3 linked regions of the Homo sapiens genome follow. The protein of the gene in region 1 interacts with the protein of each later gene in a biochemical or structural test. Each region holds a gene or a part of one and is shown on either strand. Other genes may lie near its edges.

Region 1 (3,243 bases):
ATTGTTGTTCCAGGATGTAAAAGGAAGAACATTAGGGACAAAAAATTGTTTTTCTTTTTTCCATATGGAACAGGGTTCTGCTGCTTATTCTTGGCTTAATATTACTTGTTCATGCTATGCCTCTGAAATGTGGCAAAAGTCCCTGATACATGAGCTATGAGGCTGTCCTCAGGGTTCAGCTATGATAGAGACTCAGCTGGCTTAGGCTTCATCCACTGCCAATGAAGTCAAATTTATAACAGCCACCTTGACAGTCGAAGCTAGGCCAAGTTAAAATAATTAATTCCAGAGAACTTCAAAGTGCATTAATCAGTTAATAATGGAGCAATCTAAACTTAAATAGTCGTGAGAAAAAAAGGAAACCCTGTTAAAAATTTTAGGGGTGAAAATATTGCAGATGAGGGTTATCAATCCAGTTCATGACAATGTAAAGAATGGAAATGACTACTCCAACATATGTCAGAGAAATGATAACTTTGAAGACTTTTAATTCACAGAGAATATATTCCTGTGGTTACTGGATGTTATCTTCCTTTCTTTTTAGCCAGTACCACAGCTCTCCCTCTCAAATGAAAATCTGATGTCAAAAGCTGTTTCACTGACCTCTATTTGGACTAGAAAGCACTCTAGTCTTTCTAGTCTTAAACTCCTTAACAATAATTAAATATAACTGAAGTTGTTGGATTATGATAAAACTATAAAGCATCAATTATATAGCGGAACATATAAAAATCACCAGAGACATCTTTAGATGAATTCAATTAAATTAATTCTAATTCTAGGCTAAGTTTTTTTTCCTTTTATTTATTTATCCCCCACCACGCTGCCCAAAAAAAAGACAGGGTCTCCCTATGTTGCCCAGGCTGGTCTTTAACTCCTGGGCTAAAGGGATCCTCCTGCCTCGGCCTCCCAGAGTGCTAGGATTACAGGTATGAGCCACCATGCCCGGCCCTAGGTTAACTTCTTAAAACAATGAAGGAATCACAGTGTTAACATTGTTTGTAAAGTGTAGTATTTGTCAGGCAACTGAAACAATCAGACTTCCAAATGAAGTCATTTGCAGGCTGTGACCAACTTTTCCCTGAATTCAAATTGACAAAACTACTTTGTAGAGATGCAAGAGTCTTGCCTCACTTCCAGGAATGATGTATGGATTCATGCGCCAGAAAGGAAAAACAATAGTCAAGTCAGACTAAAATGAGAGGGAGAACACAAGCCCGAATTTTGCTCACATCCCCAGAAGCAGGAGTAAGCTTGCACTTTTAACAAATGCCTCTTACCAAGAGGCTTAATAGGAAAATCTTGTATATTGCAGTTACCAAAGGACTTCCCTGCATGTCTGCAGAATGTCTAAAAGAAAAAAACACTACTCCCAAGTGAGACTTTTGACACACATAAAATATTGTTGTTAAAGGAATAAACTAGTGGAATAAGACAAGGCAAATTTCATTGTTGTGTTAAAATCTCATGTTAAGCAAGGTTCTGACTAGTCATTTGCAGACCTGATTTCTGGAAACGCTGAGTAGAAATCACTGGGAGATAAATCTAAATGAGAACATTAATTTACTTACACTCAGATAACTCTCTAAAGAGCCATTGTCCAATTTTACAAGATGTGCAACAGGCAGAGAAGGACAAACATTGCAAATAAGTTCTTGCCCATTCATGGTGCAAGTTCTCAGAAGTTACTCTTGTCCAAATCCTTCTGTTTCTTCTATGGCAAACAACAGCTTTTCCTTCAGTTGCTCATAGCTCTTGTATGGTGGCAGGTCCAGGCGATTAAAACTAAAAGCAAGAATTGTTAGTTTGAGAAAAGGAAATATGCAAAGAATCAAATGAGTAGTGTAGTATACTACTTTATACACTACTATAGAAGCACAAAAATATACTACTGTGCTTCAAAGGATACCATCAAGAAAGTGAAATAACCCAAAAATGGGAAAAAATATTTGTAAATCATATATCTGATAAAGGACTGGTATCCAAAATATATAAAAAACTTAAAACTCAACAATATTTAAAAATGAACAAAGGATAGAGATTTCTCCAAAGACATACAAATGACCAATAAGCACATTAAAAAAATGCTCAACATCCTTTACCATGCAAATAAAAACCACAATGAGATACCACTTCACACCTGTTGGGATGGCTATTATTTAAAACACCAAAACAACAACAACAACAACCAAAAAAAAAAAAAAAAAAAAAAAAAACAGAAGAAAACAAGAGTTGAAAAGGATGTGAGGATGTGGAGAAATTGGAGCCCCTCTGCACTACAGGTAGGAATATAACGCAGTGTAGTCACTATGGAAAACAGTATGGCGAGATTCCCCCAAAAAATTAAAAATAGAATTACTACATGATCAAGGAATTCCACCTCTGGGTATATACCCAAAACAACTGAAAGCAGGGCCATGGACAGATATATCTATATTCTACCACAGTATACCTATGTTTATAGCAGCATAAACAGCCAAAAGGTGGAAATAATCTAAGTGTCCATGGACAGATGAATGTATAAACAAAATGTAGTATATCCAGACTATCAAATATTATTCAGCATTAAAAAGGAGGAAATGCTGACACATGCTACAACATGGATGAAAATTAAAGATATTATTCTAAGTGAAATAAGCCAGCCAGGAAAGGACAAATAAGGTACGATTCTACACTTACGAAGTACTAAAGAATCATAGAAACAGTAGTAGAATGATGTTTGCCAGGACCTGGGGAAAGGGAGTCATGGGGAGTCATTGTTTAAAGCAGCAGTCTCCAGCCTTTTTGGCACCAGGCAATGGTTTTGTGGAAGACAATTTTTCCATGGACAGGAGTGGAGAGGGGGATGGTTTCAGGATGAAACTGTTCCACCTCAGGTTAGATTCTCGTAAGGAATGCACAATCTAGATCCCTCACATGCACAGTTCACAATAGTTATTGCTCCTATGAGAATCTAATGCCTCTGCTGATCTGACAAGTGGTGGAGCTCAGCAGGTAATGCTCATTCACCCTCCACTTACCTCCTGCTGTGCAGCCCAGTTCCTAACAGGCTGGGGACCAGGAGTTGGGGACCCCTGCTTTAATGGGTACCATTTCAATTTTACAAGATGAAAAATGTTTTAGGTCTGGCATGATGGCCTGTAATTCCAGCACTTTGGGAGGTCAAAGCAGGAGTATTGCTTGAGCTCAAGAGGTCGAGACCAGCCTGAGCAACAAAGTAAGACTCTGTCTCTACAAAAAGTT
Region 2 (3,743 bases), on another chromosome or scaffold:
TGTATACACGTACATATATAGATATATATTTATATGTATGAAATATTTTGGAGCAAAACAACGACAGGTAAAAACAAAGGAAATGTGAAAGCGTATGGACTTCAGTTACTTATAATGAATTAACATTGTTTATTAACTGCAACCAATGAATGACACTAATGTTAGGTGGTAATAAAGAACCAGAGTAGAACTAGGATAAGTTAAGAGTAGGGATTCAGGCTTGAAAATCTATTCCTAAGTGAACATAGGGAAATGAGAATCATATACATTATTGTTTAGTAAATACAGCTCTTCAAAATGACGCATACATATTTCTTAAAGCTCTAGCTAAAGACAAAGAAACTGAATATAAGAAAGATGATTTTTTACATGTTAAAAGACAATACATAATTTTATTTTACTAGGAGCAAAGACAATAAGGAGATTAAGAATAACTCCAAAACCAGATTCCTCCTTACCTCACATTCTGAGTAGGATTCCACCTTTCAGAAGGCAGTTCTCCACTCTGTGGGTCATCTACAGGCGGATGAAGAATCGAAATGCATACATCTCCATTCTACAAGACACAAACATTACATTCAGTAAATACTCAAAAAGTGATGTACAAAAAGGGACATCGGTTCTAAAGTTTCCTTTATTCCTAGAAACTGTTTCTTCATCAAAGGAGAAAACAATTCTGCTTTTTATGTTCAACATCAAAGATAAATAATAATTAAGCATTTTAAAAGTATTTATTTTGACCAATCTCCAAGGTATATTTTCTAGTGAGAAGACTTACTATTCCTATAGAACAATCCTGATGAAACAAACGATCCCTATGTTTACTTAGGAACATTAAAATATAATATTTATTTCGACCAATCTCCAAGGTATATTTTCTAGTGAGAAGACTTACTATTCCTATAGTACAATCCTGATAAAAAATTGACTGGGGCTGGGCGCGGTGTCTCACGCCTGTAATCCTAGCACTTGGGAGGCCAAGGCGGGTGGACCACCTGAGGTCAGGAGTTTGAGACCAGCATGGCGAAACCCCATCTCTACCAAAAATACAAAAATTGGCTGGGCGCGGTGGCTCACGCCTGTAATCCCAGCACTTTGGGAGACCAAGGTGGGCAGATCACAAGGTCAGGAGTTCGAGACCAGCCTGAACAACATGGTGAAACCCCGTCTCTACTAAAAATACAAAAATTAGCCGGGCGTGGTAGCACTCCCCTGTAATCCCAGCTACTCAGGAGGCTGGGGCAGGAGAATCGCTTGAACCTGGGAGGTGGGGGTTGCAGGGAGCCAAGATCGCGCCAATGCACTCCATCCTGGGCAACAGAGGGAGACTCCGTCTCAAAAAAACAAAAACAAAAGACAAAAATTAGCCGGGCGTGGTGGCACGCGCCTGTAATCCCAGCTACTCAGGAGGCTGAGGCAGGAGAATCGCTTGAACCCGGGAGGCGGAGGTTGCAGTGAGCCAAGATAGTGCTCCGGCCTGGGCAACACAATGAGACTCCATCTTAAAAAAAAAAAGACAAACATAATAAATCAAGACTCAATTGTCTTAGAAGCAGCCAAATATATATCCCTTTGTTTTCAGATATATCTGTGTACCTAGAGTACATAAAAAGGAAGAAAAAATATCTAACCTTGCTTAATATCTACTCAGATAGATGCTATGTCAATAACCATGACTTATATAAACCAAAAATATGCCTCGCAGCAAATGTTAACATCCTCAAGGTATGGTTAGAATGACTTCCCACTATGGCTATTATATTTTGCTTCATAAACTTAACACAACTTAATCCACAAGTACATTTAGGTTAATTCATACACATATGGATTGCCCACCATGTGCAATACAGAACACAATTCAATAGAAAAGATAAAGTTAGGTAAAATACAGTGACTTATCTCTTGGACTTAGCCTAACATGGAAGGTAAGATTTATTTATTTATTTAACTTCTTTCTGTCTTTAGAGATGGGAGTCTCACTATGTTACCTAGGCTGTAGTGCAGTGATTATGCATAAGACAACCATGGTGCACTGCAGCCACTAACTCCTGGCCTCAAGTGATCCTCACACCTCAGTAGTCCCATAGCTGGGACTCTAGGGTGTGCTACCACACACGACTTAAGATTTATATTTTTAAAAAACTGGAGGTATAACTATATAAAGTGCAAAAATCTTACATATACAACCCAAATTTAGACACATAGAAACTATATGAATATATATGTAACCATTATCAATATAAAATATTTTTAAAATAAAATTAATACAAAATATTATATTCTAACACACTGCCTTATGGTTAGATACCATAAGGCATGTAAAAAGTTACTACAGATAAAAGAAGAGAGAGGCCAGGCATGGTGGCTCACATCTGTAATCCCAGCACTTTGGGAGGCTGAGGCAGGCAGAGCACAAGGTCAAGAGTTTAAGACCAGCCTGGCCAGTATGATGAAACCCCATCTCTACTAAAAATACAAAAATTAACTGGGCGTGGTGGCACCTGTAATCGCAGCTACTCAGGAGGCTGAGGCAGGAGAATCCCTTGAACCCGGGAGGCAGAGGTTACAGTGAGCTGAGATCACGCCACTGCACTCCAGCCTGGGCGGCAGAGCGAGACTCCATCTCAAAACAAAAACAAAAAACAAAAAGAAGAGAGCCGGGCGTGGTGGCTCACGCCTGTAACCTCAGCACTTTGGGAAGCCAAGGCGGGCAGATCACCTGAGGTCAGGAGTTCGAGACCAGCCTGACTAACATGGAGAAAACCCATCTCTACTAAAAATACAAAATTAGCCAGGCGTGGTGGTGCATGCCTGTAATCCTAGCTACTCGAGAGGCTGAGGCAGGAGAATCACTTGAACCTGGGAGGTGGAGGTTGTGGTGAACCGAGATTGTGCCATTGCACTCCAGCTTGGGCAACAAGACCAAAACTCCATCTCAAAAAAAAAAAAAAAAAGAAAAAAGAAAAGAGAAACTTGGTATATTTGGGCAGTGAATGCGTGGGAGGTGGGGTGGAAGATAAAAGGCTTTGTTGTTGAGGAAGCTTTGAGATGAGCTTTCCTTTAATAATAACAATTTAAACAACCTATGGGAAATGTAGAAATGAGTTTTTCTGGCCAGGTGCAGTGGCTCACGCCTGTAATCCCAGCACTTTGGGAGGCCGAGGCAGGCAGATCACTTGAGGTCAGGAGTTCGAGACCAGCCTGACCAATATGATGAAACCCCATCTCTACTAAAAATACAAAAATTAGCCGGGCGTGGTGGCACGCACCTGTAATCCCAGCTACTCGGGAGGCTGAGACAGGAGAATCACTTGAACCCGGGAGGCGGAGGTTGCGGTGAGCCGAGATCACACCATTGTACTCCAGCCTGGGCAACAAAAGCGAAACTCTTGTCTCCAAAAAAAAAAAAGAGTTTTTCTGAATCCCAGCACTTTGGGAGGCCGAGGCCAGCGGATCACGAGGTCAGGAGATTGAGACCATCCTGGCTAACATGGTGAAACCCCGTCTCTACTAAAAATACAAAAAATTAGCCGGGCGTGGTGGCAGACGCCTGTAGTCCCAGCTACTCAGGAGGCTGAGGCAAGAGAATGGCGTGAACCCAGGAGGCGGAGCTTGCAGTGAGCTGAGATCGCGCCACTGCACTCCAGCCTGGGCAACAGAGCGAGACTCCGTCTCAAAAAAAAAAAAAAAAAAAAAAAAAAAAAATTAGGCCACAGAAGTATGCTACTTGGTTCAGAGCGTAA
Region 3 (2,291 bases), on another chromosome or scaffold:
TTCAACACTTTATCTTCCTTTTGGTTCAATAAATATCCAAAAATGTTTACAATTTATGTTGCACTGAACAGAGCTAATGATAAATATTGTCCCTGAAAACATGACTGTTATTTGCTGAAGTTCTGATAACCAATAGAAATGTGTTTAAATAATCTCAAATAGATGCCGTCAATGAGTTTTAAATATAGGCCAGGTGCGGTGGCTCACCCCTGTAATCCCAACACTTTGGGAGGCTGAGGTGGGCGGATCACGAGGTCAGGAGTTCCAGACCAGCCTGGCCAACATGGTGAAACCCCATCTCTACTAAAAATACAAAAATTAGCCAGGTGCGGTGGCGGTGCCTGTAATCCCAGCTATTCGGGAGGGTGAGGCAGGAGAATTGCTTGAACCCGGGAGGCAAGGGTTGCAGTGAGACGAGATCGCGCCACTGCACTCCAGCCTGGGTGACAGAGCAAGACTCCATCTCGGCAGGGGAAACAAATCACACGGAATATAGAAGCTATGTTTATACTAAATTAAAACTTTATTGAATAAAGAACACTCTCCAGAACACATGATCTGATGGACTAGGTCTACATTACATGCAATGAAGCTGAACATGACCGTAGTTTAACATGGAATGTCAAACAAATTAGTAATTTTCATTGTACAAAACTGTTTATGTAGCTGACATGCATGCAAGAAGAAAAGTGTCATACTCAGCATTTTCACCAATCTTCTGTGATGAGTTTTAAAAAAGGCATTTGGAGAAACTGGTAGATGTCTTCAACATATAGTTCAAATAAATTAGTTGTATGTGTACTACTGAATCCTCTTTCAACCTCTCTTGCATTCCAAATAAAATCTTAGTGCAAACATCAAAGTTGCTGGTCACTCCAAAAGACTGCTAAACTCATAATAGAATACAAGTTCTGAATTACTGTGTATTAAGTAGGAAAACCCAAGAATACCAGTTACTGCAAAATTCATTTAGGCACATTTAATAGTCCACTCTAAGCATTTTTTCTAAGTCTCTCACATTAATGACTAAAGCCTGTTTACAGTACTAAAATTCTATCATTCAAGCATCAATGATTACATTTCAGAAAAAGGAAATTCATTTCAGTAATAGCATTACTGCTATATCCTAAAAAAAGGAGAGAAAATAAAGAATCATAATTAACAAAACCAGTATCCATAATAGGATACACAGGGAAAAACATTTTAGGAGAAAAAAAAAGTGTGCTTTACTTGCCACAGCAGGAATTATATAATGTAAACACCATATTGGCCCACACCACAAAAATCCATGAGAAAGGTTCAAATTTGAACACCATATGTGCATTATTTTCAAATCTGTGTTTGTGAGTTTATACTGTATCTGCTTGTACCAATACATGACAAACAAAACAAACTCTTCGACACACATATAAGTGATTGTTAAATATTAAGCATGGCTTGATTCCCTGACTTTAGCTCAAAAAAAAAATGTTAAGTGACATCCCAACTGTCTTAAAAATGTTTACAGAAACCATTAAATGAATGTGAGTAGTAGCTGAGGAATGATGAAAAAGTGATGGTAATGATATTGTGCAAGTGGATGGAAAAAGAATATACGTATTTGCAAATGCATGGAAAATCTTATTCTGTGGGCCTTGTCTGAATTTTAAACTGATACCAAGAATAAAAAAATATAGTAGCACAAGTCCATTGACACCTGGAGGGTCAGGCCTAGAAAGCTTACCTTCAAAGTGCAAATTTTAACAATGGAATGTTTTAGCAGGGACTTAAGGACAATCCTCTGTCTTTTTCTTGTTGAAAAGACCTAAGATGTTCAGGAAGTATTTATTCCTGGCCAGAATTATTTCAGTTTCTTGGTAAAACAAAAATATTTAGCCACAATTACCACCCGCTCATTCACATACACAGAACCATTCTTAGGGGTGTTTGCGGGGAGAAAAAGCCCTTATCTATGTATCACCTAATGGAACTCTTATTTATAATCTAAGTTCTTTGAATCCACTACTTTAAATACCAACATGCACCTCTCTTATCCCCTCCCTCTCCACCCATCTACCCCATACACCCCCAGTGAACCTAGGTATTCTAATGTCTTTGTGTTTTCTAAGCCTCATGAATAAGGCTGTTGAGTACCACCTCCACCGGATCAAAATTAACACCTGGTGCACTTTCTACAGCACCTTTTTTCTTCTCCACAATTGAGTGGAATCTTGATGCTTTCAAGCCTGTATCTAGATCTCCAGGTCATCAGGCCGAGGTCTGCTGCTGGCACGACTGCTGGCTCTGCTTGA

What was found.
Region 2: the proteins of ITCH (region 1) and UBE2R2 form a complex in vitro, tested with the Homo sapiens proteins (one study listed by BioGRID).
Region 3: the proteins of ITCH (region 1) and GJA1 interact in a test that uses a peptide from one of them, tested with the Homo sapiens proteins (one large-scale study listed by BioGRID).

Annotation. Positions count from the first base shown.
Region 1 is NC_000020.11:34,506,237-34,509,479, reverse strand, and holds part of ITCH (E3 ubiquitin-protein ligase Itchy homolog), read right to left. Parts: intron 1,786-3,243; coding exon 1,686-1,785; 3' UTR 1-1,685. UniProt on the Homo sapiens protein: Acts as an Acts as an E3 ubiquitin-protein ligase which accepts ubiquitin from an E2 ubiquitin-conjugating enzyme in the form of a thioester and then directly transfers the ubiquitin to targeted substrates.
Region 2 is NC_000009.12:33,896,987-33,900,729, reverse strand, and holds part of UBE2R2 (ubiquitin-conjugating enzyme E2 R2), read right to left. Parts: intron 557-3,743; coding exon 459-556; intron 1-458. UniProt on the Homo sapiens protein: E2 ubiquitin-conjugating enzyme that accepts ubiquitin from an E1 ubiquitin-activating protein, and catalyzes its covalent attachment to other proteins by an E3 ubiquitin-protein ligase complex.
Region 3 is NC_000006.12:121,447,937-121,450,227, reverse strand, and holds the end of GJA1 (gap junction alpha-1 protein), read right to left. Parts: coding exon 2,232-2,291; 3' UTR 501-2,231; downstream 1-500. UniProt on the Homo sapiens protein: Gap junction protein that acts as a regulator of bladder capacity. A gap junction consists of a cluster of closely packed pairs of transmembrane channels, the connexons, through which materials of low MW diffuse from one cell to a neighboring cell.